Regions from separate parts of the Homo sapiens genome. Here all the other regions are reported to be linked to region 6. Evidence: microRNA targets listed by miRTarBase, many of them from high-throughput screens and not tested one by one. Region 6 holds a microRNA gene; each other region holds the end of a gene's coding sequence. Distances are between the middles of the regions.
The links. Region 6 holds the annotated microRNA hsa-miR-31-5p (AGGCAAGAUGCUGGCAUAGCU, at 2,415-2,435, shown strand). A microRNA usually pairs through its seed, bases 2 to 8, with sites in the 3' UTR of a target mRNA and lowers its output. Matches are read on the target gene's strand: a 7mer-m8 pairs with bases 2 to 8, a 7mer-A1 pairs with bases 2 to 7 and ends in A, and an 8mer does both.

Region 1: the mRNA of ABCB9 is a reported target of hsa-miR-31-5p. Seed matches in the 3' UTR shown: 7mer-m8 at 3,235-3,241 and 8mer at 2,859-2,866.
Region 2: miRTarBase lists AKNA as a target of hsa-miR-31-5p. Seed matches in the 3' UTR shown: 7mer-m8 at 1,842-1,848 and 7mer-m8 at 526-532.
Region 3: the mRNA of RASA1 is a reported target of hsa-miR-31-5p. Seed matches in the 3' UTR shown: 8mer at 3,306-3,313.
Region 4: miRTarBase lists SPRED2 as a target of hsa-miR-31-5p. Seed matches in the 3' UTR shown: 7mer-A1 at 2,478-2,484.
Region 5: the mRNA of ZBTB39 is a reported target of hsa-miR-31-5p. Seed matches in the 3' UTR shown: 7mer-m8 at 2,236-2,242.
Region 7: miRTarBase lists DPYSL5 as a target of hsa-miR-31-5p. Seed matches in the 3' UTR shown: 7mer-A1 at 1,909-1,915, 7mer-A1 at 1,807-1,813 and 7mer-m8 at 186-192.

Annotation. Positions count from the first base shown.
Region 1 is chr12:122,926,523-122,930,812 of GRCh38, forward strand. ABCB9 (ATP binding cassette subfamily B member 9) reads right to left here. Exons shown (of 12, transcript NM_019625.4): 12 at 2,470-3,649. The coding sequence ends at 3,389. Among named protein-coding and RNA genes, the nearest start is that of VPS37B, 33 kb to the left of the region's middle. RefSeq lists an enhancer at 3,396-3,896.
Region 2 is chr9:114,333,833-114,338,122 of GRCh38, forward strand. AKNA (AT-hook transcription factor) reads right to left here. Exons shown (of 22, transcript NM_001317950.2): 22 at 324-3,474. The coding sequence ends at 3,222. Among named protein-coding and RNA genes, the nearest start is that of ORM2, 6.1 kb to the left of the region's middle. RefSeq lists an enhancer at 210-710.
Region 3 is chr5:87,389,984-87,394,273 of GRCh38, reverse strand. It overlaps RASA1 (RAS p21 protein activator 1), which reads right to left. Exons shown (of 25, transcript NM_002890.3): 25 at 2,358-3,474. The coding sequence ends at 3,391. It also overlaps a transcript of CCNH not described here. Among named protein-coding and RNA genes, the nearest start is that of CCNH, 21 kb to the left of the region's middle.
Region 4 is chr2:65,310,365-65,314,654 of GRCh38, reverse strand. SPRED2 (sprouty related EVH1 domain containing 2) reads left to right here. Exons shown (of 6, transcript NM_181784.3): 6 at 486-3,804. The coding sequence ends at 1,154. Among named protein-coding and RNA genes, the nearest start is that of ACTR2, 85 kb to the right of the region's middle.
Region 5 is chr12:57,000,323-57,004,516 of GRCh38, forward strand. ZBTB39 (zinc finger and BTB domain containing 39) reads right to left here. Exons shown (of 2, transcript NM_014830.3): 2 at 1-4,194. The coding sequence ends at 2,457. Among named protein-coding and RNA genes, the nearest start is that of ZBTB39, 4.1 kb to the right of the region's middle.
Region 6 is chr9:21,510,450-21,514,592 of GRCh38, reverse strand. MIR31 (microRNA 31) reads left to right here and starts at 2,408; the gene lies at 2,408-2,478. The region is part of intron 1 of MIR31HG (MIR31 host gene); the gene reads left to right.
Region 7 is chr2:26,945,842-26,950,131 of GRCh38, reverse strand. DPYSL5 (dihydropyrimidinase like 5) reads right to left here. Exons shown (of 13, transcript NM_020134.4): 13 at 1-3,222. The coding sequence ends at 3,137. Among named protein-coding and RNA genes, the nearest start is that of MAPRE3, 23 kb to the left of the region's middle. RefSeq lists an enhancer at 63-563.

The DNA of each region.
Region 1 (4,290 bases), not on the chromosome of region 6:
GATGACAGAGAGAGATCCTGTCTCAAAAACTAAAACAAAAAACCCTGCCAAAATAAAACAAACAAAAGAAAACATTATATCTCTAGCTGGGCGTGGTGGCTCATGCCTATAAGCTCAACACTTTGGGAGGCCAAGGTGGGAGGATTGATTGAGGCCAGGGGTTTGAGACCAGCCTGTTCAACAAAGCAAGGCCTGTCTCTACAAAAAAAAAAAAAGCAAAAGAAAAAATTAGCTGGGCATGGCGATGTGCACCTGTAGCCCCAGCTACTCTGAAGGCTGAGGTGGGAGGATCACTTGAGCCCAGAAGGTTGAGGCTACAGTGAGCTGTGATAGCACCTCTGCACTCCAGTCTGGGCAATAGAGCAAGAACCTGTCTCTAAAAACAAACAAACAAACAAACAAAAACACTCCTATCTTAAATGTAATGTGGGACACTGGAACAGAAAGAGGACATTAGTAAGAAAACTAGTGACACACAAATACAGCTTGCAGTTTCACTGATAGTGACATGCTATGTTGGTTTCCTAATTGTGACAAATGTACCCCAGTACTGTGGGATTTTAAGAGAAGAGAAACTGTGAGGGGTGGGGCATAAGGGAACTTTCTGTATTGTTTTGTGACTTTTCTGTAAATCTAAAATTATTTCAAAATTAAACTTTTTTTTTTTTTGAGACAGTCTCGCTCTGTCACCCAGGCTGGAGTGCAGTGACGTGATCTCGGCTCACTGAAACCTCTGCCTCCCGGATTCAAGCAATTCTCCTGCCTCAGCCTCCCGAGTAGCTGGGACTACAGGCGTGTGCCAACACGCCCGGCTAATTTTTGTATTTTTAGTAGAGACAGGGTTTTACCATGTTGGCCAGGCTGGTCTTGAACTCCTGACCTCGTGATCCACCCACCTTGGCCTCCCAAAGTGCTGGGATTACAGGCATGAGCCACTGCATCTGGCCTAAACATTACTTTTTTAAAACTCCTATGTACCTCCTAAAAAGAAGGTAATTCGGTCTCTGGAAGGTTCTTTTGTCTGCCTATGGCGCACTTTTGGGTGTGGGTTTACAAATCAAGGCACTGGAGCTAACTCCATAGGAGAGGGAGAAGAATCTGGAATTCTCAGCCTGAAAGTGCAGGGATGAGAAGAGACAGGCAGATGGGAGAGGAGCTTAGACTGGAACGGGGCTGGGCTGGGGCCAGGAAGCCCCTTGCGAGGGACTTTGCAGAACAGGAATGTCCAACACTGACGCTACAAACTAGAGATGCACAGGCTGGAGACCACCTCTACACATGTGCTTGTTGGTCCTCGGTTTTGTCAAAATAATTTGAGCCAATACATAAAAAACAGCTGATCTCACATGAAAATTGGAATTTCCAACTTCTCTGGAAACATCTGAAGATATGCTAAGTCTCTGAAAACTTAACCCCCTCTGCTTCCTAAAATCAAAAAGGAAGTCCTGAGGTTAACTTCAACCAAGGTTGCAAGTTCCCCTCTGTAGCAGGCTGAGTGGTGGCCCCCAAAAGCTTCCCTTGTCAAACCCCTGAACCTGTGAAGTGACCGTATTTGGAAAAAAGGGTCTTTGCAGATGCAAAGGACCGCTAGATGAGATCAGCCCGGATTATCTAGGTGGCCTCTAAATCCAATGACAAGTGCTTTTATAAGAGAAAGACAAGGCTGGCCAGGCGCGGTGGCTCACGCCTATAATCCCAGCACTTAGGGAGGCCAAGGTGGGCAGGCCATCTGAGGTTAGGAGTTTGAGACCAGCCTGGCCAACACAGTGAAACCCATCTTTACTAAAAATACAAAAATGAGCCGGGTGTGGTGGTGGGTGCCTGTAGTCCCAGTTACTCAGGAGGCTGAGGCAGGAGAATCGCTTGAACTCGGGAGGTGGAGGTTGTAGTAAGCCAAGATTGTGCCACTGCACTCCAATCTGGGTGACAGAGCAAGGCTCTGTCTCAAAAAAAAAAAAAAAAATTGAAATACTACTCTACCAGTTGGCACAGAGCCCTCCTCCTGGGACCCCAGAGTTCTTCACAATTCAGCAAGTAAGAATAACCACCGCAGGGGTCTTCCTGTGTCCGGGCCCAAACCTCCCTGCTGATTGAGCTGTCCTCCTGGGTAATATTTCTTTACTGCATGGATTGGGGTGGGTGTCGGGTGCCTGGGCCCCGATGGAAAAGAACAGGTGGCATTTGTTGGGCCTCAGTTCAGCTGTCCCGGGAAGCACAGAGGCCCCTGGGATTTCAAGGCAACGTCTCTATCCCCCTGCGCAATCCCCGTGGAGACAGGCAGACAGGAATGTCTACACCAGAGACCCTGGGATGGGAGGAGTGCAGATGGGGCTCCCAGACACAGGGGGAGGCCCTGGACCACCCAAAGTCTCTCTGCAACTCCACCAGAGAGGGCTGAGAGGAGAGCCGTGGTCTGGTGGAAAAACCTAACTGGGCGATGAGGCAGTTGGCCCAAGTAGAAGTCAGAGGTTAGGGGTAAGAGGTAGTACACTTTATTGACCGGGTTCTCTCAACATGTTGCAACCTCTGGCAAAGCCAGATCCTGGGCTTTGCCACCATCCCATCCACCAAAGACAGAAGAGAATGCATCTCATGAACATCCACGTGGCCTCCAGACAGCAGAGCACAGGGGCGGGTGTGGGGAGGGAGGCTGCCAGCCAGGGGTGGGTGGACGAGGGGCGAAAGCGCTGGGTGCCGGGCTGGGGGCACCCCTGAGGCCCCTCCAGACCTGGCCAGCCCCTCACTCCCCCAGTTGAGGTTTCGTGTGGTTCACAGTGAGACTGGCTTAGATTGGCAGCGGGCGATGGCAGACAGATGCCCTCCACGCTCCCTACCCGCCCTGGCCAGACTCACAGAGCTGGCAAGAGGGAGAGACGGAAAATCCCGTTCCCCGTGTCTCCCTCCGGGACAGGGAAGCCCCTTCTCTGGAGGGGTAAAGGGGAGAGGCCTAGTCTCTGGACATCCCCCAGGCTACTAAGGAAGGGCCATTCACTCCTGGCTCAGAAGTTTCTAGAACATCTTGGTGAAAGTGCCCGCCATTACTCCCAATTAGAAAAAGGTTTTTGAAATCTAGGAGTTGACTGGGGTGCCTCAAACCAAACAGTAAAAACCCTGGTAAGACCTAGGTTTAAAAAGGCAGCTCTACCTTTGCTTAGGAGGCTAGGGAGGTCCGTGAAGGCGTTGGCTCAGGGCAGCAGGGGTAAGGAGTGCCCTGGGAATGGGGCAGGGACCAGGGGCAAGATGCAGGAAGCGGTGATCCATGGGACATGGCAGGTCGTCTTTCAGTGCTGCAGGCCTGGGCTCGGAGGGCAGCTGGGGGCCTCCGTGGGCACATCTGCCAGGCAGGCACCGGGTCCTCTGCCCCACCGGGAGAAGCAGGGGCCCCCCATCAGGCCTTGTGACTGCCGTTGGCTACAGGCTCGTTGTGGCCAGCTGTGAAGTCTGCGGCGGGCTGAAGCCCCAGCATCTGCCGCTGCACCAGCTTGGCGTAGAGGCCGCCCTGGGCCAGCAGCTGCTGGTGGGTGCCCTGCTGCACTACGCGGCCCTTGTCCAGCACCACAATGAGGTGCGCGTGCTCCACGGTGCTCAGCCGGTGCGCGATGATGAGTACCGTGTGCTTCTGCAGGTTGCCATGGATGGCCTGCTGGATCTGCGGGGACAGTGGGGGCCTGGCTTGCATGGCACGGACGCCCCACCCGCAACCGTGCTTCATGCCACGGCCTATGGGCTGATGCTTAACCTCTCTGAGGCTCAGTTCACAAACGATGGCCAGCTTCCTGGGTTTTTCTTAAAGGGAGACAGCTCAGGGCCAGACACAATGAGGCACCTGGTGAATGGGGGATCAGCTCTACCCTGGCCCTCCAGTCTTCTGGTCCTTCCCTTCCCCCTCCTTTTTTTTTTTTTTTTTTTTTAAGTCTTGCTGTCACCCAGGCTGGAGTGCGGTGGTGCGATCTCAGCTCACTGCAACCTCTGCCTCGTGGGTTCAATCGAGTCTCACGCCTCAGCTTCCCAAGTAGCTAGGGGATTACAGGTGCCCGCCACCATACCCAGCTAATTTTTGTATTTTTAGTAGAGACAGGGTTTCACCATGTTGGCCAGACTGGTCTCGAACACCTGACTTTGTGATCCGCCTGGCCTCGGCCTCCCAAAGTGCTGGGATTACAGGTGTGAGCCACCGCGCCTGGCCTTCCTTGTTTCTTATCTGCCTTCCCCACTGGAATGGAAACACCATGGGGACAAGGGTCTTTGTCTAGTTAGCCCACGATAACCCCAGAATGGTGCCTGGTGCCT
Region 2 (4,290 bases), 93 Mb from region 6:
TATTGTTTGGCTCTGTGTCCCCACCCGAATCTCACATGGAATTTTCAGCCCCATGTGTTGGAGGCGGGTCCTGCTGGGAGGTGATTGTATCACGGGGCTGGTTTCTAATGGTTTAGCCCCACCTCCCAGGTGCTGTTTCTCACAAGGTCTCATTGTTTAAAAGTGTGTAGCACCTCCCCCTTCGCTCTGTCTCTCCTGCTGTCTTGTGAAGAAGGGACTTGCTTCCTCTTTGCCTTCCACCATGATTGTAAGTTTCCTGAGGCCTCCCAGCCATGCTTCCTCTGAAGCCTGCGGAACTGTGAGTCAATTAAACCTCTTTTTTTCATAAACTACCCAGTCTCAGGTAGTTCTTTATAGCAATGTGAGAACAGACAAATACAAGGTGGATGGGGTGGGGAGAGTTCAGGCATGTGGTGCCTATCACAAGGACCTTATTCCAGTATTACCATGGCCATCGGGGGAGGCACGTTGTGGGGACCAGGCTGGAGGCAGGAAGGCCTGAGTGAAGGCTGCTGTGGGCAACTAGGCAAGAGGCGGTTGCCTGGGCCAGGACAGGGCAGGGCAGGGAAGGGCTGGGGTGATGCAGAGGGCTTGGGGCCCAGGCCAGAGGGGCTGGGTGTCTCCATGGATGTGTTCTTAGGGTGCTCACCTGGGAGACCCAGAAGAAGGAGATAACACGTAAGGGTGAGGCTGGTCCCTGGAAATCAGCTGACATCCTGCAAATGTGGAGCCCTGAGGTGGAGCCAAGCCCGAGGCACAGCCCACTCAGTGGCACAAGCCACAAAGGGCCGGCCTCACCCCAACCTGGGTGCTCGTGATTGACAGCCTCTTGTTACGTGAGGGAAGCAGCACCCCTTCCGTGGCAGAAAAGTTGGGCCTGAATTGTTTGAGCAATTCCACGTGTGCAGCTGCGTATACCATCCAGGGTGATAGGACCATGAGCCCGAGGCCCTGATGTCCTGGGGTCTAGTCCTGTGTCCACAGGCACCACTCCCCTTTGTACCTCCTGTCCCAACAGCCAAGCTCCACAGGGCCAAGACTACAGCATCCTTTGCTCAGCACCCAAACCACAGCTGTGCCCACAGCACGGAGGCTGGGGACACCGAGCTGATGTCCTCAGAAGGCAAGTGGACAGGACAGCCTCTGGGGTCCCACAATGTCCTGGAACTGAAGGCTCAGAACCTACAGGAAGTTTGTCCATTTCAGTGTTACTTTCAGTGAGACACCATTTTCAACCATACTCAGGAGGATCCGCTGAAAAATGAAACAGAAATGAGTCATGATGGGCAGAGCAGGGAGAAGCAAGGGAGACGAGAAGTGGGGAACATGGAAGAAAAAGCCACGTGAGGAAGAAACCAGAGGTCAAGAGAAAAAGAATCATGGAGGTAGAGGAAGCAAAAAACACACATAACAAAGAATGTGGACTTTGGGTCAGACCAATGTGAGTTTAAATCCAGGTTCTCTCCCAAACCAGTTTGGGCAGATGGCCCATTGGAACCCCACTCTCCTCATCAGTAAAAGGGGGGCAGAGTGAGGGTCCTGAGGGTTAGCACATGGACTGTGTGAAGCAGACAATGCCCAGTGCTTAGCACCGGAATCAGGGTCTAGCAGGTGCTCCCTAAATGGCAGGTGCTGTTTGCTACTGAAAGTACTGGAAGGCTGGGCGCCATGGCTCACGCCTGTAATCCCAGCAATTTGGGAGGCTGAGGTGGGTGGATCACCTGAGGCTGGGAGTGCAAGATCAGCCCGACCAACATGGAGAAACCCTGTCTCTACTAAAAATACAAAATTAGCCAGACGTGGTGGTGCATGCCTGTAATCCCAGCTACTCGGGAGGCTGAGGCAAGAGAATCACTTGAACCCGGGAGGCGGAGGTTGCAGTGAGCCGAGATTCCACCACTGTACCCCAGCCTGGGCAACCAGAGCAAAACTCAGTCTCAAAAAAAAAAAAAAAAAGAAAAAGAAAAAAGAAAAAAAAAAGAAAGAAAGGAGCACTGGAGAGTCCAGGTGCATACTCTTGTAGACAGCAACTTGCTGTGTGCCTCATTTACATCTCTGGCCTCAGTCAAAAGGGACTTGGCTAGGCAGCCCCACCTCAAGGCCCTCCGCAGTTGAAAGATTTATGGTTCTGAGATAGGCAAAGGGGGAAAACTGGAGAAACAGAAGCCACCAGAGGGAGGCAGGCAGAGCACCCAACAGGTCCCCTGGGAAAGGGCTTGGCTGGGCATCAAACCTACCACCCCATAAACTTGACATTGAAGGCAAAAGTTAATGACATACAGCAGAGACACGGATGGCTTTGGGTATTTTTTTTGTCTTCTTTTCTTTTTTTAAGATCAATATTCATTCTTCATTTGCCCTCGTAACGAAAATAGATTTTTAAATGCCTCAAATATACAAACATCATTGATGCACACACATTCCAGAAATGCAGAGGTATGCTGCTGCCACGGGGTAGGGGTGCGGGAGGCGGCCTGGCCTCATGGCCGCAGACCGTGCCCCAGCCCGGGCCTGGCAGGTAGCTGGCCACTGATAAACGCCACTGGGATCCTAGGAGAAGCTGGGGACCATGCGTGAGGTACTGAAGGGGACCATGGTGGATGGCATCCTGGGCACTTTGTAGCTTGTCTGAGGGAAAGGCCTCTGCTGCCATAGAAAAGCTGGACACATGTCACCCTGGGGCCCTGACATCCTAAAATGCCCCACTGACTACCAGTCACTAGGAGAAAGGTCTCCGGCTATGCCCTTCCCAGTGATGCTTGCCCCAGAGTGACTGGTCACAGGTGGGGGACAGGTTTGCTCCAGAAACCGTAGGCCTTTCTTGTCTGGCCCCCTAAAGAGGACCCAAGATCAGGAAAACTCCCCAGTTTAAAAAAATATCTGTCCATCTGTATATAAAATACCTATTATTAGCTGGAGTTGCACACATGCAGGACCAGGAGAGACTGCCTGAGGTTCTGCCTGGACCGAAGGAGGCCTCGCTCACAGCACCTCTGTGAGGGGACTGGTGCTCCTGGGAAGTCACTTCTCTTGGTGACCGAGCTGACACCCCCTCCACTTGGAAAGCACAGGGACTGAGCAGGCGGGACCTGTGCTGGAGGGAGACCCTCCTGGTGAGGAACTATGCGGGCCTTCTGGGCCTCAGCAGCTCCAGCCCACTCCTGGCCTGGCAGGCCACCTGCCCACCCACCCACCCATCTGCCTCTGGGCCCCCAGTGAAGTCAGAAGAGGCAGGAGCCCCGCAGGCTGTGAGCCTGGCGCAGGTCGGCTGACAGCGAGCTTCTCATCTGCCTGGTGGTAGAGCGGACGCTCTCGGCAGCCTGCACGGCCCGGCTCAGGGCCTTGTTGAGCTCCTCTAGGTCGCCCAGGTCGAGCTGGATGGAGTGCCGGTGTCTCCGGGCTGGTGGGGGAGAGGCTGTGGGCGGCCACTTGGCAGCTGGTTGGGCTGAGGTAGGTCCTGCAGGCGCATAGTACCTGAGGAGAGAAGTGAGTGGGCTCGTTACACATGGGGAGGGCTGGGGACAAGCCGAGGAGCACCGTGTGTGGGGTCAACCCCCTTCTAAATCCCAGCTGGGCCAGTGGCTCCTACTCTCTGGGTCTCAGTTTCTTTACCTCTAAAATGGGAATAATGGGCACACATCCAGGGATTTCTTAGAAAGATGAAGGAAGATAACAACATGAGTGCCTGACCCAGAACAGGTGTTCAAGGACAGGAAGTTCAATCTACCTGTTCATCTGATTTACTGCCCATCTAGTACATGCCAGCCAGCGTGCCAGGCTCTGGGGTTACAGTGGGACAAGAAAACATGGACTCCTGCAATCTTCTTGGAGCCGGATCTTGGGGAGGCCAGGATCACCCTAGGCTTGATAGCAAAACCCCCTCATGGAAGAATATCTGGGGGTTCCATTTGCCAAGCAAGGGGTGCTGGAGAAAGGCAATAATTAATAATTAATAATAGTAATAATAATAATAATAGGGATTCTGCAGGAGTGGGAGGGTCTGGCCCCATGTCCTGGGAAGTGGGTAGAAGAGCATCCTTCCTAGCCCAGTCCTATAGGAATGTGAGGTGTTGTTTTAAAGTGCTGTGGGAATGGGCTGACAAGCCCATTGAGATGAAGCACGGATTTCCCTAAGAGGTGACAATGGCATCCATCAGGGCCACTAAGTTTAGGGTTCAAGGAAACCAGCAGTGGGCAAGAGGGGGTGTGGCCTCAGCACTGTTAAATAAAGGGTGTGTGTGGTGGAGGAGGGAGATAAAGAAGCATGGACCTAAATCAGGAATAAGTTTA
Region 3 (4,290 bases), not on the chromosome of region 6:
GCTAGAATAGCACCTGTTTTGAATATTCTTATTCCATCGTGACTAATATCAAATTAAAGCTGCAACTCATTTGCCTAATTTTTTAAGCAAAATATGATAGGCAAACCTATGCTTTTTTTAAAAAAGGCACCACAAAAAACAAAACTTAGTAGCCAGCTTTAAAAGTGTTAAGGAATGTGTTTTGCCCTCTAGAAACCTTTATAAATGGCTTTTTGAATGCCATCCTGATATATTTAGCTATTTGTCCATTACTATTAAACTGCAGAAGGTATTTCAACTGTTACATGGTACTGAAAGCCAGTCGTCTGGGTAATGAATATTATTTTTCTTTAGTTACCCGAAAACATTTCCAAATGGGTTTTTAAAAAAAACCAGATATATGATTTTGAATAGCTGTCTACATCAAACTCTTACGCTAGTATAGATAAGTAGGTAGCAGCAAATTGTATATTCAGTTGTGGTTGTTTTTTAATTTTGTTTTGATGTAAGGTCTTGCTATGTTGCCCAGGCTGTCTCAGACTCCTAGGCTCTAGTGATCCTCTGCCTCAGTTTTCTGAGTAATTGGGACTACAGGCACACATCACCACAGCCTTATAATTAACCTATTAGATCCTATAAGTGAATCCGTGTAAGTAGATTATAACAGTTACTAGGAATTTTGCAGATTAAATATGTTAGAGAAATGTAATTCAAATTGAAATGAGTCAATATAAAAATATGAAAGCACAGACTATTACAGCAAATTACTTACATATGAATCATGGCCAGCTGTATTTCACTATGTGACCTTGGTAAGTTATTAAACCTCTAAGTGCCAGTTTCCCACACTGAAAATGGGGAAGATAAAAATGCCTACTCTTCATAGGATTAATTAGAATAGTACCTGCATACACTAGTATTCAGTAAGTGTTAACTATTATAATTGGAACCAAACTGTGGACGTCTGTTTACCAAGCCAGATTTTTTTCAGGAAAACTGGCTTGAAGGAATTCCGAGTAATTCAAGTGTCCTGAATCTAATTAAATTGCACAAATACACACACCTCCTCAGTCTCAGTACATCCCAGGCTGTACTTTCCAGAAAGGTAGGTACCATTATAGTTACATCTATTTTAAGGCAATACTTACTATATGCATATTCATCTCTCTAACAATAATTCTTTACACTGTAGGCTTGAGTTTTGTGGGTTTTTTTTTTTTCTCATTCCAGAGTGAAAGGAATAAAATTCGTGATGTGAGATTTTTACAAAAGCAGAGTGGAAGAAGCCAAAAGTTATAAATCCTCCATCGCAGTCCTAGTTAAATATATTGCTGCTAGGCTCTAGACAGAATTACAAGATGTTCACAATTTGTCTCATTTTCCCTTTCAGATCGCCAAACTTTGGCATCAGAGCAAGGTCCACACTTATCACTGAAAATTTTCCCACCCAGCCCCATTAAAAACGTTAAAGTGTGAGAGATTTTATTTCAACACTGACAAGCTAGTTACTAGAGGGCCTACAAAGGTAAGTAACAAGTTTCCATTTCAACTTGAGAGACAAATGATGTTAAAATATAAGAAGCAGGGTAAGTCAGGTTTGTGATTTTAAATAAAAGGGAGAAGGATTTCAGACTGAGGAATGACAGGTTAGTATGGCTAAAGATTGAGGTGTGATAAATGGGAGCCAAAGTGCACAGCAAAAATATCTTGACTAATCCATATCCTCCCTGTCTTCTATCATGTAACCAAGGAAGGAGACCACCTGGGATACTATGTTGGTCCAAGTCCAGCTAAAAAACAGAAGGGGTGGAAAGGAGAGTAATTTGATAAAAGAGCCAAGAAGGGAGAGAATGGAATGAATTGAGCTGATTTCAAGGAAAAGGAGCATGGGACATGTTGAGATTTTTGGTATCAGTGTTAAACGGTGATTGAAGCCACATAGGTTAGCAGCCCCCATAGAAATAACTGCCTTTTGTAGCTTGGAACTACTAAGCAGACATCTTTTAAGCCCTTAGCATTTTTTTTTCCTGTATTTTATACATTAGAGGAATAGCATAAAGTGTTGCTCTTGGAATCTAGGGCTTTCCTTACTGTGGGAACACCTCCTTGGGTTCCTGTCTCACTCACTTTGATTACCAATGTCATTCTGCCACGTATGTTCCATATGTCCTATCTATCTGCCCTGCACAATTATGAGAGGGAAGGAATTATTGCATTTATAAAATCCTTTTCAAAAGAGGCCATTAGCAAAAATACTAATCTAAAGCTTCAGCTTCTCCCTGGGCCTTGCTCTGATGCTAAGGTTTAAACTGCCCCTGAAGGAGGAAGAAAATAAATAAATTAAATGCTTAGCTCTTTTAGACAGAAGTAATCAATTATGCAAGATATCCCTTGGTTTTATTTTAACTTAACCTTTGTGAATACTTCACAAAAATACACATACAGAAGTAAATAAAACTATACAGTTGAACTAAATATCCAGCAGATACAACAAGTAGTCAGAAGTTCAAAGATGGATAAGTTAGGCAGCTGATGAGGTTGTCTGCATAATCAAAGGGGTAGCACAAATAATGAACAAATAACTTTTAACAAAAGCATTCTAGTTAACATAAAAGAAATTGGTAGTCTATAAAATGGTTGAATGGGTAACATGCATTGATCAATACAACAACCAATAATATTTACTGAATTCAAACTATTTACTTGTAAACATTTAACAAAGCATTATGAGATCTAAATACAGTCTTTGACAATTTCAACAAAATAAGTCGTATGTTTAAAAAATAAAGCTGATGAGCAATAGATCATTCTATATATTTTCTTTCAACAGTTCCAGCAAGAGAAATAGCAGAGTATTTTTTAAAAGTATACAGCAAAGATTGTTCCTATTATAATGACAAACTCTGGAAACTGTAAATACAAATAATCATTGAACAGTCAAATGGTCATATTCCTAATCAGGAAGTAGTTACAGTAAGAACAGTCTGCAATCCAGTTATACACAATTGTCAATAAGAATGTGTTTCTTGTCAGTTGATTTCATAGTTCTTTCTCTAAGAGACAGCAAAACTTTGGCAACTGGGTGTACTGAAAATATATTTTGAAAGTTCGAGATATCAAGATACAGTCATAGCATTTCGTTTTGTGAAAGGTGGTCTGTACACCAAGGCTCAGAGGTTGTTAAAGATTGATTCCATGTGGAAATAGTGCAAATATCCTGCACAGATAGCTTACAAGGTTGCTGGCATAGTTATTCACCAGCAGAATCTTGGATTTTGTTTGCATAGCTCACACATCACTGGAATGTGGAAAAGTGTGCTATTTTTTGGCAAGAGCAAAGGAGACATTAAACTGAAGTGAATTACCATGTTGGACATGCTGAATCCATGCAGAACACTGGGGCGAAGGCTGCTACCTGACATCATTGGTTTTTGTATACTGGTTTTGTTTTTGTTGAAGCAGTTCTGTTATAGCCAGAAGCTTTTTCAATACGTGCTAGACAGAGGAAAAATGGTATGAAAATAAATGAAAGCTCGGTCAGCAATTTCAGGATGGGAACCTGGATTTGAAAAAAACTGTATCAAAGCAAAAGGATGCATAAAATATTACCACAATTCCCCTCAAAACATAAGTCTCTATTATTCAGTCATTGGCTGAGTATTTCTGGTCATAACTAAGAGAATTTTTATACCCTAAAGTGAACAGAAATTTGTTTGTGTTTGGCATGCTCCTATTTTTTAGGCCAGAACTATCACACTATCACATGTTGTCAGAAGCAGTTTATCTCTCTTTTAAAAAAGGCTTTTTTTATTTAATATCTAAGGCAAGTCAAGTCATATTATTAGTTTTGAAAGCTGCGGGGGGAGGGGCGGGGAGAAACAGGACTTGAGGATTCTAGAATCTCAGGTTGTAGAGAACTCAGTCACCAAACTCAATGCTTTAATCCCTTCTACAAAATCCCTGCCAAATGGTTAGCCAGTGCGGTGACAGCATTCACTATCTCCTGAAACTACATTAGAAACTAGTCAAAACTGTCCCTGTGGTCACTTCCTCTCAGTAGCCCTTATGTCAGCTGAGGACATTCAAAGTGTAACTCATTTTGTTCTATATCTCCAATATCTTAATTGACCTGGTATTAAGTCCCTTCAAATTCTGGTCTGGTCTTTGAATACATCCTTATCTGTATCTGTTTGGTGCAGATGGCAGATAGAAGTCTATCAATGTAGTCTACTGTTTCTCAAAGTGTAGGCCATGGTTCACTTGCATCGGAATACCTATAAATTCCTCTAAGAGTTTGTTAGACGTGCAGCT
Region 4 (4,290 bases), not on the chromosome of region 6:
AGAACATACCATACAAAAATAGGCAAAACTAATGCAGGCCTTTAGAAGTGAGTGTAGCCCTCACACTGGGGCTAGGAGATCCCTGAGGGAGGCGGAAGATACTCTGGGGCACAGGTCCTGTTCTGCCTCTTGATCTGAGTGTGCCATGCTCCTGAGAACGCATCACACTGTGCCCTTGCCATGTGCACACTCCCCTGCCTGTATGGCAGTGCGTCACCAGAAAGGGAAAATACTGCCGGTCTCAACCCACGAAATTGATTTCCTGGCCCATTAATGGATTGAGACTCTATTTGAAATACATCTCTGACTGGGCGACAGGATATTCAGTAATTTCAGGAAGGGTCTGTTTCTTCACGGAGCATCGTGATGGAGTTATCGAGAAAGGTGCATTTTGGACGGCTAGGGAGGGAGAAGGTGGGGTGTTTTTTTGTTTGTTTGTTTTTTGGCCGCTGCTGTAAAATAATGTCTCCTCTCCTACGGGACAGCCGATGCCAAGGCCCTACCGCCAGGTGAGCTTCCCGGACGACGACGAGGAGATCGTGCGCATCAACCCCCGGGAGAAGATCTGGATGACGGGGTACGAGGATTACCGGCACGCACCCGTCAGGGGCAAGTACCCGGACCCCTCGGAGGACGCGGACTCCTCCTACGTGCGCTTCGCCAAGGGCGAGGTCCCCAAGCATGACTACAACTACCCCTACGTGGACTCCTCAGACTTTGGCCTAGGCGAGGACCCCAAAGGCCGCGGGGGCAGCGTGATCAAGACGCAGCCCTCCCGGGGCAAGTCGCGGCGGCGGAAGGAGGACGGAGAGCGCTCGCGGTGCGTGTACTGCAGGGACATGTTCAACCACGAGGAGAACCGCCGGGGCCACTGCCAGGACGCGCCCGACTCCGTGAGAACTTGCATCCGCCGGGTGAGCTGCATGTGGTGCGCGGACAGCATGCTCTATCACTGTATGTCGGACCCCGAGGGAGACTATACAGACCCTTGCTCGTGCGATACTAGCGACGAGAAGTTTTGCCTCCGGTGGATGGCTCTTATTGCCTTGTCTTTCCTGGCCCCCTGTATGTGCTGTTACCTGCCCCTTCGGGCCTGCTACCACTGCGGAGTGATGTGCAGGTGCTGTGGCGGGAAGCACAAAGCGGCCGCGTGACTCAGTTTCCCTCCCTTCTCCCTCCATCCGCAGCCACAGGGGAACTCGTCTCTTACATACTCTCATCTTCTCCCCCGCTCCCTTCCACTCCAAGGAGCGAGGAGGGCAAGCGGCCTCCCAGCTCCCTGGTACCTCGAGGCACCATTCCAGCCAGGGACGCTGCCGGGTAGACTCTCCACTCCCCCTGCCGCCCACACTGCAGCAGCCACATCCATACACACACGCTCGCACAGTGTTCTGAGGAAGGAACCTTCGCCACAGACTCCTGTACTATTAACAATCTGTAACCAAGCTAACTGTCTCATCCATGTGTTGATTTCCTGTTTCCTCCTCCCCCGCCTCTTCCAGTTCAAAGGAGTCTGCAATTGGAACTGCTGATTTTCGGTGGGTTTTGTAGTTGATTTTTCCAAGAGCGTCGAAGACTCTCTTTCTCTTGGTTCACCTTGCCTGTCGCTAGCAAGCATCTGGTTCAGCGGAAATGGGATGTGAGAATGATGAAACCCGACAGAAGTATCTCAGCCTGCAGTCAGTTATTATGTATAGGAGGTGAGCTAGTTAACAAACTTGTACCACAAAACAATATCGCTTTAACTTTTCTAAAGCCAAATTTCCCATGTAAGCTGCAGTTTCTATCTTTAGCCCATCATCATTTTCTGCCCCCCCAAAATCTGTTGAAATGATTCACTGATGCAAAACATTCACCCGTAATAGACTGAGAATTGAGCCTTAACTTCAGATTAACTTGTGAGAATCAGGAAAATTCCTTCAACTGCATTGCATCCTCTTGGACCAGGGCTAGAATGGGGATTTCAGGTTTCTATGAGCCTCCCCATTACCCCTAAAGTAGAACATTTTTTAAATTGTGTTGCCACCACTTCTAAAAATTTAGCAATATTAGAATAGGATACTAGTGAAGTAAGAAATTTTGCTTGTTGTTTTGCAAACCAAATAGTTTCCTCAAACACAAATCAGTGTTCCCACGAACAAGTTCCAGTTGAGAAACACTAAGGTTATGGTGAATAAAACCATAGGGAGCTTCTTCCCCCCAACCCCTGGCTATTTTATATTAATGGGGAGAGGGGATTTTTAAATGTCATAAATTTGAAGAGTGGTGGGTTGCATTTTCTTCATGGGTTTATGTTTTCGTTTCATTTTGGACTCAATTTCACATCACCAAATTCCTCATTTATACTTGGGGAAAAAACAAGGCCATATGTAAAAACCCTTCCAATGCCTAAGTGTCTTTCTCCTGCAACTCCAAACCCAGACTCGCCACTTTGGGTGCACAGGTGGTTAGGTCAGCCAACTGGTTCTGCCTGTCGCCTTGCCACGGAGGAGGCTTCTAATTAGCTGGAAAAGAGTATTTTTCTAATACGTTGCAAGGATTAGCCAAATCTTCTTATTGAAGAAAGAAGAAAAGTGAAGAGTGGTTACCTATACCTAGCATAGTACAATCAGAACCTCGTGGAGACCACCGGGGACAGGCTTGCGGACGCCGGCTGTTCTTCCCGCCACGATCTTTCTGTGGTAGCGGCCAGCAGAAGACATGGCCTGCTCCCCACTCCCTTTCCCCACTCCTTCTTTATTGCACACAGGACACCAGTCTTCAAGGAAAGGGACTTTTTTCCAGTCTGCCAATCATATTGGGAAAGTGCTAGCTGTGCTCACCTTCATGGGGCTGTTTCCAGCTCGTCCACAAGCTCATCGATTTTCTTTAGTAGATTACCGGTGTAAATACCCAGTGTGCTTATGAGTCAGTTAGTAGACGTCTTCATTCATTGGAGTAACTGGTTTAGGCTTTCCAGTTTGGAAAAGGAGCAGAGAGCTGTCCATCTGGATTGATGGAAGAAAAGAGAACCTCATCCATGCCTGGAGAACATCTAGAAAACCTTCAGCCAGCCTCCAGTGCTGTCGAGAGACCACCTTCCCCCGACCCGGAGGCACTTCCTTGGGGTCTTTCTCTAGGGTCTCTTCTCTACAAAGCACAACACTAATGTTCGTTTCCTTAGACCTCAGTTCAAGTGCCCCTATTTATTTCAATAAGAACGCACATATCCCAGCTGTTTTTTGTTTGTCACCTCTATTTAGTTGTTACCTGTTTCTCTCTTCTTTCACCCCTTGTCCTTTTCCACCCTTTTAAGAGTTACGCTAGCAGATCTTACTCCACGTATACTTTTTGGTTTGTGAAGGCATCGGTTAAGGGCACAAAGACAGCCATGGGGACATTTATGTAAATACGTCTCTAATTGCCACACTGCAGCTGAACAGTGTGTAGTATTTTCCCAGTCAGCTTTGCCATACTGACGTCAATCATTTGAGAGAAATTATTCAGATTTTATTTTTGTATCTGTGGTAACAAAACATTAACCAAAAGATTTTCTGTCCAGAAGCCTCCCCGACCCCCCAAGCTATTTGCTCACATTAACAAATTAAAGTGCCTGAAGCATAATTCATTCTTTACCTGTATACTAAAAACCCTGTTGTATTGATTTTTTTATAATAAGCCTTTTTACCTCTGTGTAAAAAATATATATACAAGTGTATGATGTACATTTTAGTTCTTAACTTTTTTTTATGGTTTCTAATATGTATGACCAATGTAGCCATTGCTTTAAAATGTACCGTGTAAATATAAACACATCCTATCAGATCGCTGGCTTTGGGGTATTTGTCTGGCAGGAGACGAGGTGATGCTAGAGCGTTGGCAGATCTTGGAGTTCCCGCATACAGGATGGGACAGGGCTTCCTGTGCCGAAGGACATGTGGACACCGGTCTGTTTTTTCAAGGCCCTTTCCTCCTATGGTTATGTCATATTCCCAAGGGGAGACTGCAGCTCCTTGGGCTCGGATGCCTCAGTGAAAGGAAGGCTGCAGGCCACCGCCCAGGAACACCCCCTCTTCCTAGGCCTGGCTTCCCCAACGAGCGCTCCTCAGAGGGAACAGCTGTACTTCCTCTAAGTTGTTTTCCACTGATCCCTGCTGAACCTCAGGGATATGTGTGTGTGTGTGTGTGTGTGTGTGTGTGTGTGTGTGTGTGTGTGTAGTTTGGAGGACAATTTCTCGCAGAAAACAATTGTTAACACTGCAAGATGCTTGGTCTCCTCCGAGCAGCTCTCTTTGGCCCACTTTCCTTTCC
Region 5 (4,194 bases), not on the chromosome of region 6:
TTCGTGTTTCAAGGGCCAAGTTTCAAGGATCTGCTTTTTGGTTTACTGGCAAAAAGGGAAAACTTCACAGTTTCAGGTTAAGTACACAGACCACCCAGCATCCATGATGCCCTCTGTTAAGGAAAAAGGTTTCTCCAGCACATTTATCTGCTCTCAGCCACTCGGCTGGTTCCTGTAATTACCACCTCTCTCACACCAGCATTTCAAAAATCAGTCCTCACCAACAGTCTGGGAGGGATTGCTCATGCTTGAAAATGTAGCAGACACTTGACTGTAGTCTGTTACACATTTCCTTCTTAAATTCTAATGGTCAGTGTGAGTAAGAAAGGGAGAAGCCAGTCAGCAATGAAGAGTCTCAACACTGCTTTCCTGATGAGGATGTCCTCAGAGGACACTGAACAAGGTGGGTTTAGATGGTCAAAGGTGGACCTTTAAACTGGCCACTGTACAAGTCCCTTCATCTAATGGTCACCCCACCAGAGAGCCAGGCACTCCAACTCTGAGGCTTTATCAGTTCAGGGCTGGGGAGAAGCAGCAGGTCCAACAAGGATGGAGCTTTGGTTTGTCTGACATCTCAATATAAATAAAGACAGGAGGCTTCCAAACTGTGCAAATAGGTCATTCATGTCACTTGTTCCCCTCAACCCTGTCCCCAATCTACTCCATCACAGGAAGGAAGGGGGATGAAAGGCCTGGAATTTAACTGTCCCGAACTTTATAGAACATACACCCATGGCCTAAAGTGTTCCCTGGGTTTATTATGCTAGAGACAATCTGGAGAAGAAGAATTTGCTTAAGGGCTTGACATGTCTTCCCTTAGTTATACCCCTGGTTCTCCACATCTCTGGTCAAGGCTGTTCTCTGGAATATGGCTACTTGCTGGGGAGAAACTCATTTTCCTAAAGTCTCTTATACAAAAGAGATGCTGGGTAATGTGTATACAAAAACAAAAATAAATAAATATTAATGTCCAAAAAGGCTTTGTGAGTTAATGAAAACCACTTGCTTGTGAAACAGCCCGGGGTGTTGCTGAATCCCACCAGGGGCAGTGCCAGGGCTGAGGCCAGGGACTCCCAGAGCTCACCTGAGCAGGGTGAGGTAGTATGAGCTACTGAGGTGGCACCTCACAAGTATGCAAGATCGAGGGCCCTATCCCTCAAGACTTCTTTGGGCAAAGCCCCTTAGAAAACCAAGTAAGAGTGGAGCTAACCAGCTGCGTGGGCTGTGCCGGCACACTCTGCAGCCACCCACGGAGGGCCTGAACCAGCTGCCATCCAATAGCGCCCCCTGGAGGTGATGGCAACGACAGATCAGGATAAATTCCAGCAGGTCAAAGGTGAGCTGACAAAGCTCCGGCACTGTTAGCACAAAGTAAACAGGTTACCCGACTAGGACAGACAGTCAGAACGCACACCCTGCTACACACCACCAGTTACTCAGGTCCCTTTAATCCTGAAGGGCTCGCGGTCTGCCACTCCACCACTTCATGGAGTCAGCTCATCTACACCACGGGCCAAACACTTCTGGACGGGAGACCAGATATAAATTAAGGCAAGGCTGCTGCTGTCAGATACATCCCCACCTCTCCACCAAGACACTCATGGCCAACAGAAGTGGCCAAAACAGATGACTATATCAAAGTGGTTCCCTATCCTCTCTGCCCCACAGAAGGCCGGACGTCCCGGGCCATCACTCCATAAAATCCTGTTTCTTTGGAAATGAGGAGAAAAGAGAAACCTCTCCTGTCCATCCAGGCTGCCACTTCTGGTGGCACTGCAGGACACCCCTTCTGGCTGGCAGGGGTTCATCCCAAAGCTTTCTGACCTAAATAGAAAGCTCTGTGCCTAGTATGGATCTAGCTGCCAAAAGATTTTCACTGTTCAATCAGCAGATTAGGGCTGTAGATAAGCAGACACCAACATCCCTGATGTCTTGTCCCTGCTGAGGGCTGGAACCTGAGGGGACTGCCCTGCTGACCTGTCTTTTCTGAATGATCACATTCCCAAAATCTTTCTCATTGCTGGTCATCCCAGTTGGAGGCCTGCAGTAACACCCACAGTGAAAACCTCCCTTTACCTCCTCTGTTAAGTGAGGCTGTTGGTTGGATTCTTAGCAGCATAAAACCTATCAGTAAACTAAAACTAGAGAGGCTGGGGAAGGGGGTCTAGTGGACACCAACTGCTTGACTAGATCCCAAAACCAGCCTCAAAAGAATGAAAAACATAGCCCTGCATGGGCAAGAACAGGTATGGAGGTAAATGTGATAGGGCTGTTGCTTCTCAACAACAGTAACAGCTTATGTGCTATTTCTTCTTCTTTTCTTCTTTAAACACAACACAGAACAGAATTCCTACCAAGGCAAAATTATAACTTCAGCTGGGGAGGGACCAACACCTCTTAGATATCAGCATCCTGGCTGCTGCTTGGGAGCTCCCCGTGGCTCTGCCGGGACCCAGTCAACTGTCCGGGTTCTTATCCGCCTCTTTGGAATGGATGATGTACATGAAGGTCTGCTCGATGGTGAAGTCAGGGGGGAGGCTGCCTTTGTGCACACCAACATGTTTGCTCATGAGGTTAAGGGTGGAACTGTAGTGCCCACAGACTGTGCAGCGGTACATGAGGGCCCCCGAGTGTGTCTTTAGGTGGCACTTGATGGTCGAGCGGCCTCGAAAGAACTTGTGGCACACCTTACATTGGTATGGCTTCTCCCCCGTGTGGATCCGCCGGTGGTAGTTGAATTCGCTTGTGTGGGCAAATCTTTTGCCACAGACCTTGCAGCTATACTTGCTGTTCCCAGGTTGGCCCTGCAGCGCCAGCTCTTCACCCAGAAACTCCTCTGCTGGCAGCTTCCGCTTCTGGAGAGCTGGGTGCTGCAGCCCAAAACCAGGCCGTGCATCAAGGCCACTGTTGCATTTGTGCTGGCTGACGTGGTAGCGATAGGCAGCCTCTGACTTGAAGCTCTGGCTGCACAAGCGGCAGTGGAAGAGGGCGTCTTCCAGACTTTGGTGCACAGCCATGTGCTTCTCTAGAAGATGCCAGTCCACAAAGCTGTTCGCACAGACAGAACAGGAGAAGACTGAGATGCCGAGATGGGACAGCGTGTGCCACATGAGGCTGCAGAGGTTAAGGTGACGCTGGTCGCAGACACTGCAGGCCTGGCCCTTCAAGTTTAGATGGTCAAGGATGTGGCCCCGGACCACATGGAAATCTTTGGCCAATACTTTCCCACAGGCAGCGCATTTCAGCTCTGGGGAGGCTGCCCCTGAAAAGAGACCCAGCTTCCCTGGCAGGGGATCGTTGGGGTGGACAATGATGTTGTTCTCAAATATTCCATCCCGTCGGTGAAGGGTCAGCTGCCACTGGGTAAAGAACTTAGTTTCACACATGTCGCAGGAGAAAAGGAAAATACCAATGTGGGACAGGACATGAGTTACCCGGGAGTTTCGGTCCTGGAAGTGGGTCTCGCAGACCTTGCAGTTGCCCGTCAGCAGGTCCACATGGTCCCGAGCATGCTGCCGGATCAGTTGAATGTTGGGCTCTAGAACTTTCTTGCACACCTGGCAGGGCATGGCCTTATTCTCCCGATTGTCATTCTCTCCAAAAGCCAACTCATCCTCACTGTCATCACTCAGCTCAATCACCTCCTCAGTTGTGCCTATATCCTCAGCAGGGTCTTCAAACTGCAAGTCATCATCCCCCAGGTCCTCGAGCTGGAGCTCATCCATCTGCCCAAAGCCAGGATCTTTGGAGTGCTCACTATTGCTCAGACAGGAGTTGGTCCCAGTGGTAATGTCTACTGCATTGTCAGGGGTGAGGAAGCTGTTTTTACTGAAGTCTCCATTGCTTTGAACTTTGTATGGCTGGCAGGAGCTCGTGCTGGTCTGGATGCCCGTGCTGACAGTGCCTAGGAGTGGCTGGGTCATCATGCTAGGAATGGACGTGAAGGGAGCAGGGGTGTCATGGTCTTCTGTCTTTGGCGGTGGTGGGGGCGGTTGCGGCAGATGCAGGCTATGGTTAGCGTCACTGGCAACATTCTTCTCTTCCTCTTTATAGCTCCCTCCAGCATCACTGGGCAACACATAGTTTCTATCAGCACCAAGGTAGTCCCCACCACCTCGGAGTTCTCCAAGGGGATGGGCAGGTTCTGCCGAAGGACAACTCAGGGTACCAGAGTGGCTCTCACTGGTGCTGGTC
Region 6 (4,143 bases):
ACCAGTAACCTGGTGAAAGCCATGATTCTCAGGATATATTAGAGAAATTAAAGAAAGCACCTCAGTTTCAACAGCAACAGCTTCTTCAAAAGAGTACAGTTTTTTTCTAGACTTTTCAATTACACATTGAGAAATTATTTGATAACCTAAAAAGTAAGTTTTCTTCCTCCTTTTAAATATTCAGGTATCTGCTACATCTGACTGGTAAATCAGATAGTTGCTGTTATTCAATTTTCTTTACAAAATGAATCTGAATTTTTTTTTGAGAAAAACCTCGCTCTGTCATCCATGCTGGAGTACAGTACTACAGCCTCAAACTCCTGTGCTCAAGCAATCCTCATGTCTCATTCTCCCAAGTAGCTAGGACTACAGGTGCATGCCACCACAGCTGGCTAATTTATTTTTATTTTTAGTAGAGATGGAATCTTGCTATATTTCTCTGGCTGATCTTGATCTCCTGGCCTCAAGTGATCCTTCCACCTTGGCCTTCAAAAGTTCTGAGATGTACTCAAGACCATGCCTGGCCTTGAATCTGAAATTTTTATGTGCAAAATGGAACTGAAAAAAGTCACAAGAAATTACTGTTTTCAAATATGTACCATATACCTTCTAAAATGATGCAGCTTGTACCTGCCTCTTAATTATGAATATCAGATATTAGTAATATTTTTTAAAATAATGAGTTTATTGGAGAAGCTTTATTCAGTTAAATCTTCTCAATTCAGAATTTTGTTACCTAACCTGTTTTGCATTTGCCATTAATTTTGATTCAATGCTCTGTACTTAATGATCCCCAAATTCCTAAATACCCTTACATTAATAGATCATGCAATTAAGTTGAATTGTATCCTAGGAAGTCAATTAGTACCTCTTCCACAAGTTACCTAGCCTCAGGACAAGATGTTACAGGCTTTTGTGCAATAGAACACTCATAAGTTCCTACCCTCACAAGAACAGACACCACATACTGTATATGCGTGGGTGACTGCATATGTGTATATCTAGTACCAGGCTTAGGTAATGCTGGACTTTTGTTTCTGGCAAAGGCAATTGATACTAGAATCATATTTAAAAGAGTATGCTTCTTCCTTATCTATACCTTGGTAGCACTATATAACAAAATGTTTTACCTTTATAGGTTACCTTACACTCCATTTTGGGTAAATAATACGTATTACTTACTAGTTTTTTAATAGAGACATATTAAAGAGGAAAGCAAACATAATTTATAATCCTATCCAATTTTTTTATTTAAAATAATAAATTGCTCATTTATCCTTTAATAAAAAACATGTATGTATGCCCTCCAGGTATGTGTCTGTGTATACATTTTCACTTGCACAAAAGTTATACATAATGTCATTATTCTTATGCCTTACTGTTTTGTAAGGACCACCAAATATTCTGTTGTATAACTATATTATTTATTTAGCCTGTATCAATCATACTGATGAGTGTTCAAGTTGTCTCCAATCTTTTACTATTAAAAACAGTGTTGCAGTGAACATCCTTGGACCTAGAACTTAGTGGTACTTTTGCAAATGTACTTGTGAAATAAGTTTCTAGCTGGGAATTTTTGGCTCAAAAGAGCATTATTTTTGGCAGGGCATGGTGGCTCATGCCTGTAATCCAAACACTTTGGGAAGTGGAGGCAGGAGTATGGCTTGAGTTTAAGGGTTTGAGACCAGCCTGGGCAACATAGCGAGACCTTGTCTCTACTAAAAATACAAAAAAAAAAAAAAAGAGTGATGGCACACACCTGTAGTCCCAGTTGCTTGAGAGGCTAGGGTGGGAGGATTCACCTGAGCCTGGGAGATTGAGGCTGCAGTGAGCTATGGTCGCACCACTGCACTGTATCCTGGATGACAGAGCAAGAATGTCTTTAAAAAAATCCAAAAATAACATTATTTTTAAGAGCACATAAAGCAGTGAACTAACTACACACTGCTGAGCCACAGTTTGTTATTGTTTAAATACATCTGAGTGGCAGAAATTGACCAAGTAAAGTTATTAGAGTAAAAATAAAATTGTACTGAGAGTCACTGGGATATTTTGTGGACTATAAATATGGTGGTAATAGCCTATAATTAACTGTCATCAACTTTAGACATTATTGATTTAATAAAATTTTTGTCACAATTTCATCCCTGTGGTTTCACAAGTAGTCCATAAACATTCTCGAGGTTCATTTTAGATCAAAGACCATTAAAAAAATGGAACTACCCACAAACCTCCTGTGCCTAACTACATCTTCAAAAGCGGACACTCTAAGGAAGACTATGTTGTTATGATCAGAAATAAGTGCGCTTTCAATTAATGAGTGTGTTTTCCCTCCCTCAGGTGAAAGGAAAAATTTTGGAAAAGTAAAACACTGAAGAGTCATAGTATTCTCCTGTAACTTGGAACTGGAGAGGAGGCAAGATGCTGGCATAGCTGTTGAACTGGGAACCTGCTATGCCAACATATTGCCATCTTTCCTGTCTGACAGCAGCCATGGCCACCTGCATGCCAGTCCTTCGTGTATTGCTGTGTATGTGCGCCCTTCCTTGGATGTGGATTTCCATGACATGGCCTTTCTCACCTTCCTTACTTCCTGTCCTGCTATGTATTGTGTCCTACCATGAATTCACTCCATGCTAGCCACATTGGCCTGTATGGCTATTCCTTGGACACACCTAGGATGTTCTTGCCTCTTAGCTTGCCTACCTTTCTCTCATCATTTGGGCCTCAGCGAGGATATCATCTCCTCAGAGAAGCCTTCTGTGACCATGCTATCTAAAATACTCCAGCACTTCAGTCACCCTTTATCCCATTACTCTGCTTTTTCAGAAACATTGGTGCTCCCTGAAACGTATTTGTTTACTTGCTTAGTGTCTTTTCTCCCGCACTACCATGTAAGCTTCTTGAGGGTTAGGGACCTTGTTAGGGATAACCACTGTATCCTTAGAGTGTGACACATAGTAGGTTCTCAATACATATTTTTGAAACTCTACCCTGATGCAAAAGAGATATCAAATAATTATAGTTTTTGCATTATAAATGTCTTTGGTGAAATCCCTGGCACAAAACTAATAATAAAGAAATAAACAGATAATGTTGAGTTCTGGGCCTGCAAACCTAACTCTTTAAAGCAGTCACAGTAAATGTGTCATTGGATCCATAGACTTGTGGAAGTCAGCATATTTTATTGGGAAAAGCATGAGCTTCAAAGTAAAACTTATGGTCAAATCTCATTACTGGTGCGTTCTTAAGTCATTTAACCTCTGAGCCACAGTTTACACAAATGTAAAATTAGAGTAATAATAGTGACTCCATAGGACCCTCAAGATAAGGAAATAAGGTATTTTAGTCAGATGATTCTTATCACATGTCTAAAAATTTAGTGTCTCTAAAATTCTTGATATATGCATACCAGTAGACACTCAACACATTTATTTCACTACTAAGAAAAAAGTTTTCTTTAGTTAGAGACAAGGGATTTTATGTGAAATGTGTGGAAATTCTATGCCAGAACGATAGTACATGTAGAATTCTTTGTAAAGATAGAAATCTTGAGAGACCAAGGAGTTAATTGTCAAGGATCTCAAGTTCTTCTCCTGGTTAGTTCACATTCCTCATCTTCCTTTGTTTCTGGAGTTACTCATTATCTGTAGATCTCTTTTAAAAGTGGTTTTTACACATTCACTTTAAAGAGTAAGAATGTTCAGTAAATACAATTGTATTTTAATGTTTAATAAATACTAATGTTTAATAAATACTGTTTGATGTTTCATGTTTTTAAGCATTGAAGTTTTAATAAAAAGCTTTGCTTTTAATAAATAAAATTTCATGTTAATTTTAATGCTTTTCCAAGAAATAAAGTAGCAGTCACTATTCTCGATTGTCATTATTTATTATTACTCAGGGTATTAAAACATACAGAAAGATCACATTATACCTTCATTTCATGCCTCTTGGAGTATATTAAACTAAGCTGCTAATTTAACAAAAATGTGTAGCACAAAAGTGAGGTAGTTTTAGTCTACAACTTTTATAAGCATCTCTTTATATAAGGATAATTTGTTTAAAGACATCATTGTACAAGCTGATCTTGCCTATGAAGGCTTTTAAGAACTCACAAAACAGCTTTAGCTGAAAATTAGA
Region 7 (4,290 bases), not on the chromosome of region 6:
TGGAGGGGGTTTGGGTTTCCTTGTGGTTCTGTGGCTTCTGGGTCAGTATCAGAAAAGCCCTCATCACGACATCGGCTTGACAGAGACCTACTGTGGACTCCTAGCACTACACACACGCACGCACACGCACACACAGTAGCACAATTTTCTGGCAACTTAACCCCACAAACCTAGAGAGCAGCTAAGGCAAGAACAACAGTATTTATTCAGCAAGTACAAGACCAGTTTGAGAGCTGCATTCAGTGCAACCAGAGACCCTTTCGTTCCAACCAGGAGCCAGTGGGGCTGGTGACGAAGCTGGCTGGAGCTCTGCACGGGGCAAGGAGTGCATGGTGGGGGCTGACCGCTCATTTGGCTCCTTGAATCTCTTTCTGATTTCTATCTAGAAGCTCCCGGGCAAGGGTAGGGCCTATGTAGGGACTGGGGGTGGATGAAGCGCATGGCCTACAGTGGACCACTCCAAGACGTGGTTCCCTGGTGCCACGGGTCACACATCTCTCAGGCGGAGGCACTCAGAGAAGGTAAAGCTTTCCTAGCCCAAGCAAGGATGCTCTGCCCAGCTGGCCACCACCGCTGCTGCTGGGCTCTTTGACATCTGCCCAAGGCCCATGACCCAGTGAGGGCTGACAGGGATAGAGATGGTGTGCACTGCACCAGGAGGCGGCGTCATGGTTTCCCCCATCCCTGGTGGCTTTCCCAGGCCTGGGTCCTCACCCCTGTTCCAATGGCTGCCACTTGCCATGAGCCCCTTCGCCACCTCTGCTCCCCGGCTGACCACCTCTGTCCTCTCAGCCCCTGAGTGAGGAAAGGGGGAGTGAAGGGAGAAGTGAGGGTGTGGACGCAGCTCACACTGCACGGTTAGCCCCCAATGGGTGACTAGTCTTGGCTCAAACACAGAATGTGCATGAGGTTGTTTATAAGAAAGATGAGAAAAAAAATCTATCTTCCTGTGCAAAACAAAGCAGGCTGCCTACCAGGAAAGTAAGTCTTCTCATTGGTTAAACTCTCAGGTGGGATCTACAATAGATGTCACCCCAGACCTCCTCTCCACAGGTGGGGTAGATAGCCAAGGTTGGGAGGGTCATCACAGACACTTCTGGGGTCAGAGGACCTGAACTTTCTGGGTCTTAGTTTCCTCATCTGTAAAATGGGAAGAATAATAAGTGCTCCATTGTCATGAGGACTAAGTGAGAGGTCATATACGGAAGTGGTTTGAATACATGAAAAGCACTACAGAGATGTGCAGGGGCTGACTTTTTTGTTTGTCTGTTTTTTGAGATGGAGTCTCACTCTGTCGTCCAGGCTGAAGTGCAGTGGCGTGATCTTGGCTCACTGCAAGCTCCGCCTCCCGGGTTCACGCTATTCTCCTGCCTCAGCCTCCTCAGTAGCTGGGACTACAGGCGCCCGCCACCACGCCTGGGTAATTTTTGTATTTTTAGTAGAGACGGGGTTTCACCGTGTTAGCCAGGATGGTCTCGATCTCCTGACTCCATGATCCACCCGCCTTGGCCTCCCAAAGTGCTGGGATTACAGGCGTGAGCCACCGCACCCGGCCAGGGGCTGACCTTTAACCGAGGGTCCAGAAGCCTCGCGCAAGCCTCGGGGGCTGAAATCACATGTGCAACATGAAGTCACTTCCCACGGGGCAGACCAGGCTTAACAAGGGCAGGCGGCTGGGTCACTTCCCAGATCACTGGAGGTGGAAGGAGACACCCGGCCTCTAGTGTTTCCATGGGAACTTCTGTGGGGCTTTAGAAGCAGGGAGGGCCCACCTGGATGGACAGGGGAGAAGATGAGGCCATGAGCTGGCAAGGGCCTGGTGCCGACCACGGGAGATCACGGCACCTGAGCAGCAATGCGGGTTCGACAGCCAGGTCCTGTGGGCCTGGGGTCTCCCTCTCTGGTGTCTGGCAAGCCCCTCTCCCACTCCTCCTCTCTCAGCAGGCATGAGGCCTCTTGCCAGTCACACAGGAGGAGCGCTGAGTCTCTGTCCAGCAGGAAGAAGTTATAGGAAGCCGTGCGTGTGTGTGTGTGTGTGTGTGTGTGTGTGTGTGTGTGGTGGCAGGTGAAGACAGGGGAAGGCAAGGGGAGTGCTGGGAGTGATCAGGGGCAGAGAGGGGAAAGGACACCTGCTTCCTGAAGGGCTGGCATCTCTGGGGCTAGCATCCCAGGCCCCCTTTTGGAATGTGGGAAACTAGACAAGGAGGGGAGGGGAAGGGGAAAGGGCCAGGGCCTCCCGCAGCCCAGAAGACTGCAGGCGGGGAAAAGAGAGGCCTGTGAGCCCAGCCCCCTCCACCACCCCTGCCCTGTGCTGTCTGGTTGGTGTCAAGTGCAGCGTCTCCTAAGGACCACATCTATTCCTGTCGCTATTCTATGCTAGTGACACAAGCACCGTTATTTTTCACAGGATGCACAAACAAGTCAAACCAAACTACTGCGCAAACCAAACGTGCAAAACAAAACCATTTACACGCGCCTGGCACCAGCCTCGAGCCCCGCCCAGCTACCCTTCTGGGCCTGTGACCCCCCGAGGGTGTGGGCGGGGCGCAGGAGAAGCTGGCGAGGGGCACCAGGAGTCCCAGCCACCCCCATCCCTGCCCCTACACAGGGCCAGAGGTGGGTTGGGGGAGATAGGACGTCCTGGGCATGGCTGGGAAGCTGACATCTGTCTGACTTGGGAAATGTCACCACGGGGCCTAAGGGGTGGGGGAGGAGGCCTTTACTTTGAAACCACATCTGCTAAAGTGCTCTGGGCAACTGGCCAGTCAGCCAGGGGGCAGGGCACTAAAGTCTGGGCTTTCCCAAAGCCAGCGGAGGCAGGAGTGAGAGGAAGGGCTGGCCAGGGCTCTATGCATTGGGCTCTGTGCATAGTGTGGGCTTCCTGGGCCCCAGAAAAGCCCGCCGAGGCCAAGGCAGAAAGGACTACAGCAGGAGGAACACATCTCAAAGTGCCTGTTAGAGTTGGCTCGAAGCACAGTGAATCACTTTGCAGACATAGGGAGGGCTCCGTGGGTCCCGGGGCCCCCCTCGGGTGGTGTGCCACCCAGCCCAGCCTCTCCTGCCCCTGCAGCTTCGGCTGGAGAGTTGCGGGCTGGTGGCGGCGGTGCGTCCTCACTCGGGGGGCTTGGCAATGCCTTTACCAAATGCCACTCGACCTGCCTCCGGGAGGAGCGAGGATCCGAGCTGAAGCTCGCTTTGGAACATGGTCATCGATCTGAGAGCCTGCAGGGAAGGAAGCACAGAGGGTGAGACGGGCTCTTGTGCCTGCTAACAAACCACAGACACCCTCTCCTGGAGGCTCACTGTGTGCATGGCCTGAGTGAATCCTCACAGCCACTCCATCCCATCTTATAGATGAGGAGACAGAGGCTCAGGGAAGTTAAGTGACTTGCCCCATGTTGCAGTGTGTAAGTGGCAGAGCCTGGACTTGGACCCAGGTTTTCCTGATTCAGAGCCGACATTATTAACTGCCCACTGTGCCAACTTCACTGCCCCATGCCTAGGCATACAGTCTCTCGTACATGCAGGTCATTGGCCAGCCTGTTGGCACATGGGCCTTTGTACATATGCCTCAGTGAGTAAGCGAGAGAGAAAAATGAGGGTATGCCATTGTTTCGGAAAATGAAAGAACCACAGCCCAAAGGCCCCGCATCTTGAAATCCCATGACTTAGTTACAAAGGGAGGGTCTATACAGGAGAAGGATTGAAAAAAAAAAACAAAAACAAACAAAACACAAAGGGAGGGAAAGGGAGGGTCTAGTGCCCCGGAGAGCCCAGTGGGACATTCTTCAGCCTGGCCTGCTTAGAACAGACAAGATTTGGGGTAGAGAGGAGGGGACAGGCTGCCTGATGTTTGCTGTCTGAGCGGGGGTTCTGCCCAGTCTTGGCTCTCAGGCAGGAGAAGAGGAGGCTGCTGGTCAGCAGGGGCCCTGCAGCTCTGGGGTCTTGGTGCCTCTCGTGGGTCTGGCTGCAGGAGGAAGGCGGTGGGAGTCCATGCCTCCGGGACTGGCAAGACCTGAGTGTGCATAAACAAGTCTTCCATGCCAGGGTCCCTTTCTGACTTCACTCATGGCCCGTCACTGGTGGGAGTGGCAGTGGCCCTCAGAGTAGCGGAGCCATCATCTCAGGAATGAGACTGGTCCTGAGAGAGGACCCCTCCCCATGGGCTACCAGCACCTCCAACAGGGACCTCATCTCTTCTGCCACAAGCTGCGCCTGGCCCAAAGCAGGGCACACAGGAGCCTGGGCAGGCAGGCGCTGACCCATTGGCATCCCTCTGGTTTAGCCCTC